4 separate regions of the Homo sapiens genome follow, and all the other regions are linked to region 1. Evidence: fine-mapped expression QTL. A gene starts in region 1. Each other region holds a variant in brackets. All regions are shown on one strand. Distances are from middle to middle. Region 1 holds the start of KIF3C (kinesin family member 3C). Region 2 overlaps RAB10 (RAB10, member RAS oncogene family). Region 3 has its middle 32 kb from the start of GAREM2. Region 4 overlaps KIF3C (kinesin family member 3C).

The links.
Region 2: its variant is fine-mapped to the expression of KIF3C in whole blood (TOPMed, PIP 0.96).
Region 3: its variant is fine-mapped to the expression of KIF3C in whole blood (TOPMed, PIP 0.98).
Region 4: its variant is fine-mapped to the expression of KIF3C in whole blood (TOPMed, PIP above 0.99).

The regions. Positions count from the first base shown.
Region 1 is chr2:25,981,297-25,983,980 of GRCh38, reverse strand. It overlaps KIF3C (kinesin family member 3C), which reads left to right and starts at 1,484. Exons shown (of 8, transcript NM_002254.8): 1 at 1,484-2,684. The coding sequence starts at 2,064. RefSeq lists silencers at 1,236-1,405, 1,546-1,705 and enhancers at 1,695-2,204, 2,205-2,684.
Region 2 is chr2:26,112,756-26,115,439 of GRCh38, reverse strand. The region is part of intron 3 of RAB10 (RAB10, member RAS oncogene family); the gene reads right to left. Among named protein-coding and RNA genes, the nearest start is that of GAREM2, 59 kb to the left of the region's middle. The variant A/T (reference allele first, on the strand shown) is at 1,155.
Region 3 is chr2:26,139,929-26,142,612 of GRCh38, reverse strand. It overlaps the pseudogene EMP2P1. Among named protein-coding and RNA genes, the nearest start is that of GAREM2, 32 kb to the left of the region's middle. The variant C/T (reference allele first, on the strand shown) is at 1,014.
Region 4 is chr2:25,927,407-25,930,090 of GRCh38, reverse strand. It overlaps KIF3C (kinesin family member 3C), which reads left to right. Exons shown (of 8, transcript NM_002254.8): 6 at 28-136; 7 at 614-786; 8 at 1,020-2,684. The coding sequence ends at 1,113. Among named protein-coding and RNA genes, the nearest start is that of ASXL2, 50 kb to the right of the region's middle. The variant T/A (reference allele first, on the strand shown) is at 1,317.

The sequences.
Region 1 (2,684 bases):
GAGTAAAGACAGACAGCTTGGGCTCAGTCCACAGACTCAACTGCCCTCTGCAGAGTGGACCATGGATAGGACTCTGGCTTGGTCCTTGGCCTTGTGGAATTACACTTTATTTGTATCCTACAGGAAAAAAAAAAAAGATTAAGACTCCCATAGAGGAACACCAAGCACAGACATGGTCTATCCAGGATACTCAAGGAAGCAGGAGCTGTCAGGCAATCCAAGCCAGGGCAGGACTTCTCATGGTACAGTACTTCATGATTCATTATTTCATTTGAGCCTCCCAACCATTCCATGAAGTAGTTGTTAATTATTTCTTTCCCGCCTCGAATTTTTAAAAAAATAAATGAGGAAACTAAGGCTGGAGCAAGGGGAGTGACTGCTCAAAGCCACTCCATTGGATGGCCATCAGAACTGGAACTTCAATCCAGGTTTTGTCTTAGGTAAATTCTGTGCCTCTTTCACTATAGAAAAAAAAAAATTGCTAAGGGAAGGCTTCGTGGAGGAGGAGGTGCTTGAACTGCCCAAGTGGCAGGGCACTAAGTGCCGAAGGGTGACCAGGCCTCTGGGCAAAAGCACAAAGATGCTGCACAGCAAAGCCAGTTAAAGAAACAAAACACGGTTCCGGGAATGTGCACTGCTTGAGGACAGGAAGGACCCAGATCCTAGAATGGGGCCTGGGGCTCAGCAGGCGCTGGATAACTGAAGAAATGGCTGTCTGGAACACAGATTTTTCTATAGAGGAGTAGTGGCGGTGAGGCTGCGAAGGCGGAAGATGGAGAGGCTTTCACACAAGGAAGGCGGTGGAGGAGGAGCGAGGGGGCTCCCGGGTGCTTGTGCGGACATAAGGTGCGAGAGAATCAGCTGGAAGGTGGGCTCCAGCAGAGAGAAGAGGAAGGCCAGAAGTAGACCGGGACAGGGGGAGGAAAGGACAGAGTCAAGGAACATTTAGGAGTTCGGTTCCCGGAGGCCTGGCGACACCCTGACGGGGAGGGGTGACGCGCACCCATTTGCAGGCAGAAAGGCAGGAGCAGGGGGGTGTCCGAGGATGGTGGCTCGGAGGGACCAGGCATAGGTGGTGCAAGCTCAGCAGTCACTCAAGGGGTGGCATGCGGATGAGGGAGGCGCCTCCCGGACTGGGGGACCGGGAAAGGCATTAGCAACCTGCCAGAACCCGGTTAACAAAGGCAGGACTACAATTCCCGGCATGCTCGGGCTCGGTGGGGTGACGGCGGGCGGTGGCTGCGCTGCACCCGACTGGTGGGCGCAGGACCTGGGTCGGCACCGGAGCCTGTCATCCCGGAGCGGTCGGCGGGGGTGCAGAGACGGCGATGCGCCCCTGTCCCCCGCACCCGGGCCGCTCCGGGCTCGCGCCTCCCGCCCCGCGGCCCCGCCCCCTGCCCCACCCCAGTCGGGAGGCTTAGCTGGGGCCGCAGCGCGGCGGCAACATCACTCTCGCTGCCGCTGCTCCGCCCCATCCCCTTCTGTTTTTCTCTCTCATTCTCCAGTGGCGGCGGCGGGGAAGGCGGAGGCAGAGGCAGCAGCAGCCGCGCTGGCTGCAATGAATGATCCCCCAGCTTGGGGGGAGGACTCCAGGTGAGCCTCTGCCCTCGGGAGGCCCGGGACCCCCGGCCGCCCACGACCGGCAGCCCACGCTATGGATCCCTAGAGGAAGGAGGAGAAGACAGCTCGCCGCCCACCCCCATCCCATTTTCCTCTTCCTTTATCTCATTGTTGCCGAAGCTGTTTACGGCAGCGCTCCCTCTGCTCCTGCATGGGGCGGGCTCCGGGCACGGCTGCTCGGCAGGCGCTGCTCCCGCGGCGACTGGGGGATTCTGCCTAATTCACCTCCCAGCCGGTGCAGAGAGGACCGGAGAGCGGTGGAGGCCCGGACTGCAGCAGCGTTGGGGCCACCTCCCAGCGTCCCCACCCTAGGAGGCTGCATGCGGATTGAAGAGCTGCGCCTGGGGGCTGGGCCGGCCCCGCTGATCCCGACCTAGCGAGCAGGATAGCAGGACCGCCCAGGCTGCGGAGGGGCTCGGGGGCAGGAAGGTCAGAGCAGCAAGATGGCCAGTAAGACCAAGGCCAGCGAGGCCCTCAAGGTGGTGGCCCGGTGCCGCCCCCTCAGCAGGAAGGAGGAGGCTGCTGGTCACGAGCAGATCCTGACCATGGACGTGAAACTGGGCCAGGTGACCCTGCGGAACCCCCGCGCCGCCCCGGGGGAGCTGCCCAAGACCTTCACCTTTGACGCCGTGTATGATGCCAGCTCCAAGCAGGCCGACCTGTATGACGAAACCGTGAGGCCCCTGATAGACTCCGTGCTCCAGGGTTTCAATGGCACGGTGTTTGCCTATGGCCAGACGGGCACTGGCAAGACCTATACCATGCAGGGGACCTGGGTGGAGCCCGAGCTGCGCGGGGTCATCCCGAATGCCTTTGAGCACATCTTCACCCACATCTCCCGCTCCCAGAACCAACAGTACCTGGTCCGGGCCTCCTATTTGGAGATCTACCAGGAAGAGATTCGAGACCTGCTCTCCAAGGAGCCGGGCAAGAGGCTAGAGCTGAAAGAGAACCCCGAGACTGGCGTCTACATCAAGGACCTCTCCTCCTTCGTCACCAAGAATGTCAAGGAGATTGAGCATGTGATGAACCTGGGGAACCAGACCCGGGCTGTGGGCAGCACC
Region 2 (2,684 bases), 130 kb before region 1:
TACCAAGTATCAGTCCTTCATGCCTTTTAATGGCTGAGTGATGTTCCCTTATATGAATATACACATTTTATTTATCCATTCATCAGTTGATGGATGTTTGGGTTGTTTCTGGTTTTTTTTTTTGGCTATTGTGAACAATGCTGCTATAAATACTTGTGTACACCTTTTGTGGATATATATTGTTAATTCTCTTGGGTAAATACCTAAGAGTAGAACTGCTGGTCATAAGGTAACTGTATGTTTAACCATTTTGAGAACTGCCAAAATATCTTCCAAACCAGCTGCATCTTTCTACAATTCTACCAGCAATATATGAGGGTTACAATTTCTCTCCATCTTTGTGAACGCTTGTTAGAGTCTGTCCTCTTTTCTTCCATTCTGTGGGTTGGCTTTTTACTTTCTAAATGGTAGAACCTTCAAAGCACAAAGGTTTTAAATTTGATGTAGCCCAATTTATCCATTTCTTTTCTTTTGCCACTTCATGGCTTTAGATCTTACATGTAGGTCCATGATCCTTTTTGGTTTTTTTTCTTTTTTTGAGACAGAGTCTCACTCTGTTGCCCAGGCTGGAGTGTAGTAATGCAATCATGGTTCACTGCAGCCTCGACCTCCTGGGCTCAAGTGATCCCACCTCAGCCTCCCAGATAGCTGGAACTACAAGTGCATACCACCATACCCGACTAATTTTTTTTTTTTTTTTTTGTATATTTTTGTAGAGATGGGGTTTCACCATGTTGCCCAGGCTGGTCTCAAACTCCTGGGCTCCAGCGACCCACCCACCTTGGCCTCCCAAAATGTTGGGATTACAGGTGTGGGTCACCATACCCAACCTTTGTGGTCCATTTTGAGTTAACTTTTCTGTATGGTATGAAGTAGGTGTCTAACTTTCATTCTTCCACACAAGGATAGCCAGTTTTCCCAGCACCATTTGTTGGAAAGACTATTCTTTTGCCCATTGAATTGTCTAGCCATCTTGTTAAAAGTCAACTGACCATATATGTAAGAGTTTATTTTTAGACTCTCAATACTATTCAATCAATCTTTATGACTATCCTTATGTCAGTATCACAGTGTTTTGATTATTGTGGCTTTGCGGTTAAGTTTTAAAACCAGAAAGTATAAATCTTACAACTGTGTACTTCCTTTTCAAGATT[A/T]TTTTGGCTACTCTGGGTCCCTTGCCTTTCTATATTAGTTTTAGGGTCAATTTGTCAATTTCTACGGGGGGGAATTTTTAAAAAAGCAATTGGGATTTTGATAGGGATTGCACTAAATCTGTAGATCACTTTGGGTAGTAATGCCATCTTAATATTGTCTTCCAATTCACAAATAATGGCTATCTAATTATTTAGATCTTTAATTTCTTTCAACAATATTTTGTGGTTTTCTGTGTTCAAGTCTTACACTCTTTTGGTTAAATTTACTCCTAAGTATTTTTTGCCTTTTGATATTATTACAAATGGAAATTTATTCTCAATGTAATTTTTAGGTTATTGCTAGTGTACAGAAATAAAGCTGATTTTTATATGTTGATCTCATTTCTTGTAACCTTGCTGAACTTGTTTATTAGTTCTAAGAGTTTTCTGGGTATATGTTTGTGGGTTCTTAAGGATTTTCTATATAAAATATTCTACCATTTATAAATAGTTGTTTCACTCTGGATGGCTTTTTTTCTTTCTTTCTTTTTTTTTTTTTTTTTAGCTCTGGCTGGAACTCAGCATAATGTTGAACAGAAGTGGCCAGAGTAGATATTCTTGCCATGCTCTTGATCTTAGGGGACAGGTACAATAATAGCTGTGGTATTTTTATAGATGTCACTTACAGGATTAAGGAAGTTCTTTGCTATTCCTAGTTTGTTGACTTTTTTTTGAGACAGAGTCTTGCTCTGTCGCCCAGGCTGGAGCACAATGGCACGATCTTGGCTTACTGCAACCTCCACCTCCTGGGCTCAAGCGATTCTCCTGCCTCAGCCTCCCGAGTAGCTGGGGTTACAGGTGTTTGCCATCACACCTGGCTGATTTTTGTATTTTTAGTAGAGACGAGGTTTCACCATGTTGGCCAGGCTGGTCTCGAACTCCTGACCTCAGGTGATCCACTTGCCTCGGCCTCCCAAAGTGCTGGGATTTACGGGTGTGAGCCACTGCGTTTGGCTGACTGTTTTAATCATAAAAGAATGTTGGATTTTGTCAAATGTTTTTTCTGTGTGAACTGAGATAACTGTATGGTTTTGTCGTCTATTAATATGGTGTATTACATTGACAGGTTCTGACCCTTGCATTCCTGGGTAAGTTCCTCTTGATCATGTTATATAATCCTTTAATACACCAGAGAAACAAGATTTCCTCTTTCTTTCTTTTTGAGACGGAGTTGCACTCTGCTGCCCAGGATGGAGTGCAGTGGTGCAATCTTGGCTCACTGCAACCTCCTCCGCCTCCTGGGTTCAAGTGATTCTCCTGCCTTGGCCTCCTGAGTAGCTGAGACTACAGGTGCCCACCATCATGCCCGGCTAATTTTTTGTGTTTTTCATAGAGACAGGGTTTCACCATGTCGACCAGACTGGTTTCAAACTCCTGACCTCAGGTGATCCGCCTGCCTCAGCCTCCCAAAGTGCTGGGATTACAGGCATGAGCCACTGCGCCTGGCCAAGATTTTCTTTTTAAATAACTTCTTTTCTTTTTCAGAGACAG
Region 3 (2,684 bases), 160 kb before region 1:
ATTTTGCTATCCTAGGAACCCTCTGCTAAGAATATCCCTATCCTGGCCGGGCACAGTGGCTCCCGCCTGTAATCCCAGCACTTTGGGAGGCTGAGTGGGAGGCCGATTACCTGAGGTCAGGAGTTCGAGACCAGTCCGGGCAACATGGTGAAATGTCATCGCTGCTAAAAATATAAAAATTAGCCAGGCGTGGTGGTGGGTGCCTGTAATCCCAGCTACTGGGGAGGCTGAGGCATGAGAATCACTTGAAACTGGGAGGCAGAAGTTGCAGTGAGCCGAGATCATGCCATTGCACTCCAGCCTGGGTGACAGGGCGAGACTCTGTCTCAAAATAGTAATAATAATAATATCCCTATCCTGACTTCTAGGATAATGATTTTCTTAATTTACATTAGTATATTATGCTGTACTTTCCTAAACGCACTATAGTTCAGCTTTGCCTGCTTTTCTCTCTCTACCTATTGAAATTGAATTTTGAAGAGGCTGAAGCAATTGTCCTGTAAAGTTTACGGTCTGGATTTTGTTGATTGATTTAGTATAACATGTTCTGTGCTCGTTTTTCCTATAAATTAGCAGTTGGCTCTAAACTACAGATCTGATCTTTTGATCAGGCATGGCCTCCTCATAAGCATGGTGCTCTTGGTCAGAAGGAACATAAATGTCTGTTTTGTTGGATCTTTTTGTGATGTTAGTAGCCATCGACCGTTGCCTAGATCCATGAATTCATCAGAGGTTGTGAGATAAGACTCTATTACTTCTTCTTTTTGGTTGTTGTTGGAATACTTCTGTACAGAGAAACTTCATCTTGTTGACTATTCAGTTACGCAGTGGTATAGTTCATATAAGGAAGGTAAGATTAATTATTGATTCTTTTACTTACCACCAGAGGAGTTGTAGGGGGAGGGAAGAGCTATTTCCCTGGCATTCTCCAATAGTGACCAATTAGGGGTGTGTGCATGTGTGTTTGGTATCATCATAAACTCATGGATTTACACATATTCAACAGGTTCAGA[C/T]TGTCCCATCTTTAGCCAGAGTGAGCATCTTCAAGTTAACTCCCAAGCCATCTTGATAACATCCCTAGATTTTGAGTTTGAGATCTGATGTAATCAGCTATTTCAGGCTCATTTTACCCCTTTCCTGACACAAACTTGGAATCTGCCATTTCAAGAAGCCCTGGTTTCAGAGGAGGGAGGGTGCACAGTCTCAGCCCAGAGCTTCAAAACAGCCCGGCGGCCTTGCCTCGCACCCCAGCCGGTCCATCGGTCCAGCAGCCTGCGTAGCGGCCAGCGCCGGCACATCCCGCTCTGGGCTTTAAACGTGACCCCTCGCCTCGCCCTGCCCTATGAAAATGTTGGTGCTTCTTACTTTCACCGTCGCCTTCCACATCACCTCTGCGGCCTTGCTGTTCATCGCCACCATCGACAATGCCTGGTGGGTAGGAAATGAGTTTTTTGCAGATGTCTGGAGAATATGTACCAAAAACACGAAGTGTACAGTAATCAATGACAGCTTTAAAGAGTACTCCATGGGCCGGGCGCGGTGGCTCACCCCTGTAATCCCAGCACTTTGGGAGGCCGAGGCATGCGGATTATGAGGTCAGGAGATAGAGACCAGCCTAGCCAACATAATGAAACTCCGTCTCTACTAAAAATACAAAAATTAGCCGGGCGTGGTGGTGCGTGCCTGTAATCCCAGCTACTCAGGAGGCTTGAGGCAGGAGAATCGCTTGAACCAGGGATTTGGAGGTTGCATTGAGCCAAGATTGCGCCACAGCACTCCAGCCTGGCGACAGAGCGAGACTCCGTCTCAAAAAAAAGAAAAAAAAAAAAGAGTACCCCACTCCGCGGCCGGGCATGGTAGCTCACGCCTTGTAATCCTAGCACTTTGGTAGGCTGAGGCGGGGGGTTCACCTGAGGTCGGGAGTTTGAGACCAGCCTCACCAACATGGAGAAACCCCATCTCTACTAAAAATACAAAATTAGTCGGGTGTGGTGGCACACACCTGTAGTCCCAGCTACTCGGGAGGCTGAGGCAGGAGAATCGCTTGAACCCGAGAGGCGGAGGTTGCAGTGAGCCGAGATCGCGCCACTGCACTCCAGCCTGGGCAACAAGAGCGAAACTCGTCTCAAAAAAAAAAAAAAAAAAAAAAAAAAAAAAAAAGTACACCATGCTACAATGTCATATCTGTGCCTCATGATTGCAGCCTCCATTTATACAGACAGGCGCGATGAAACAACGGATTTCTATTACCTGACCAAAGAAGGCAGCTATGGCTACTCCTACATCCTGGCGTGGGTGGCCTTCGCCTTCACCTTCATCAGCAGCATGATGTACCTGATAACTGAGGAAGCCGAATAGAGTTCCAGAGCTGGGTTGCTTTTGCTGCAGTATAAAATCCACATTCAGACAACCATTTTGTATATAATCTTTTTTTTTTTTAGGTTTTTCTAGCAAATGAATTGTTTCCTTTAAAAGTAAAAAAGAAAAAAAAAAAAAGCCCTGTTTCTTAAAGTGGGAGAAGGGACTTTCTTAGAGCCTACTGTAGTACTGTAATAACCTTCAGTTTATTGTGGGTCTCTCTTGCTCACTTGCTATTGGTAGTGTGCACACCCCTTCCAGTTCCAGCCACTGCTCTCAAGCTGGCTTGCAGCCTTCAAGTACCTGCTGGCTATCTGGAGCTCCCA
Region 4 (2,684 bases), 54 kb after region 1:
CTTTCTAATATAGCCTCTTTCCTACAGCAGTAGCAGCCAGATGAAGAAGCGGCCAACATCTGCAGTGGGCTACAAGAGGCCTATCAGCCAGTATGCTCGGGTTGCCATGGCAATGGGGTCCCACCCCAGGTACAGGGTAAGAAGCGGAGAGGGGAGAAAGAGCCTACGGGAGGGAGGCCGGGCGAGGTGTCTCACACCTGTAATCCCAGCACTGTGGGAGGCCGAGGCAGGTGGATCACCTGAGGTCAGGAGTTCGAGACCAGCCTGGTTAACATGGTGAACCCCTGTCTCTACTAAAAATACAAAAATTAGCCAGGCGTGGTGATGGGTGCCTATAGTCCCAGCTACTTGGGAGGCTGAGGCAGGAGAATTGCTTGAACCTGGGAGGTGGAGGTTGCAGTGAGCCGAGATTGCACCACTGCACTCCAGCCTGGGCAACAGAGTGAGACTCCATCTCAGAAGAAAAAAAAAAAAGAGCCTATGGGAGGGGATGCTCACAGCCTCTGCTTCCCCTAACCACCTCATCAGCCCTGCTACACCCAAGACTGGCTGAGTCCCTAGAAGGCACAGTGACTGGGCACTGTTCAAGCCTGGCATGATATTCCCACCACAGGCTGAAAACATAATGTTTCTGGAGTTGGATGTGTCCCCTCCAGCTGTCTTTGAGATGGAATTCTCTCACGACCAAGAACAAGACCCTCGTGCGCTACACATGGAGAGGCTCATGCGATTGGACAGCTTTCTGGAAAGACCTTCCACGTCTAAAGTCCGAAAGTCCAGATCCTGGTCAGTACCTCCATGGTCCCAGGCAGCACTGGACCCAGGAGGCAGGGGAACTGCAGGCGCTGGGTGATGCTAAAGAGGGTTTTGCTGGTACCCGAAGGGCAGGAAGGGCAAGGGGTGACTGGGGATGTCAGAAGGATTCCTGCAGCAACAGGATGGGGCAAAGGAGAGGACCCACTTTCCTGTTTCCTGTATTTCCCTAACCTCCCCTTTCGCCTGCGTCATCTCCCCTGCAGGTGCCAGAGTCCTCAGCGGCCTCCACCTTCCACCACACATGCCTCCCTGGCCTCTGCTTCTCTGCGCCCTGCAACAGTGGCGGACCATGAGTGACAACCATCACGTCAGGCTGCCCATCCAATAGACTCCTGGGATGGGGCAGCCAACCCTGGCTCATCTCATCTGCCGCTTGGTGCGTGTGCGTGTGCGTGCATGTGCGTGTGCGTGTGTGCAGGGGTGAGAATCTGGCAGATGGTGCCTCTGCCTGCTCTTCTTCGCCTCCTTTATTTAATTCATGTTATTTATTCGCGGAGCTC[T/A]GTTCGTGTTGGGGAGATGCCCTCGCCTGAGCCGTCTGGGCCTACCGTGGTCACTGCGTAGCCTCTTTTTCTTCTGACTTGAGAGCTCCCCCAGTCAGATCTCAGGCTTGTCCCCCTGTCAGCTGCCTCCAGAAGGGAAGGTAGCCAGTGCCTGAGAAGACAGTCCCTTTTCTACCCACCGCACTCCATAACCTCCATCTTCTCCCACACTGATGGCGAGCAGCCCCTGAGCACTTTCTGGGACTGGGAGACTGCTTGGTGTTCCCTGAGGACAAGAGACATCCTGACAGTGTTGGGCATCTGCTCCCCGTGGACACAGCCCCACTCTCCACTTTCTGAGCCTCAGACAACCTCATTCAGCCTCTTGGGCTCCTTTTCAAGGACATTAATAACCTCACCAACATAGCTCATGCCCTTCAGCTTTGACAAGAACTCACAGCTTCCCAAACTCTGCTTTCTGCCCACCTTGGATGGGAACTGTGGACCAAGCAATTACCATCGCCTTGGAACCTGCAGGAAATGGAACAGCAATTGAGACAACTTGAACAGTCATCAACGGAAGTCCCTCCACTGGATTCCTTTGTTTCTGTCCCCTCCGAGGAGTCATTTTGGTCGACAGGCTCTCAAGGCAACTCCCCATTTTCAAGAGGCTGCTCCTGCCTGCTTCGATCATTTCTCCCTGCAGCTGCCTAGACCCCGTTCACAGTGGGAGGAGTCAATGTCATTCTACCCCTCGCTAAACGAAGATATTAACATCTATTGCTTTTTCCCTTCATCTGTCACAGGAAACAGAAGCCCAGGCACAATCTTTTCCAGCTTTGCCTGTTACCCCTGTTTCTGAATTGCATCTTTAAGGTATTATTTTGTTGAAAATAGATCCTTTATTCACTAGTTACGCAAATTGGTTCCTAGGGGGATACTCCTTACCTTCCTTTGTGATGGCCCAAAATGTCTCTAGGTATCTCAAGTGATAAGTAAATTTCTACAAAAAAAAATGGTTAATGTTCATTGACTGGCTTTTTAAGTGTATATTTTGGAGGACGGGTGAAGAGGTCATAACGAAAGCAAGCGAGTGAATTAGGATTTCAAAGTGCCCTAATAGTGTGAGTCTCCAGTTCCTAGAATATGAAGAGTGCTGTCGTTGGGGTGAAACCATGAGACTGACAGATCTGCCTGAAATGGGGGGTGTGGGAGGTGGTGGCGGGGGTTATTCTCTTTCCTTCAGGAAATGAACCCTTCTTACATCATTCAAGTTCTGCTCTGAGGATCAAGCTTGGGTCTGATTTAACTCAGCGACACTGTCATTTCTGCTTCATTACTGGACTAGAGGGTTGAGCCACCCACTTGCCATTTGCTCCTGTCCTTCCA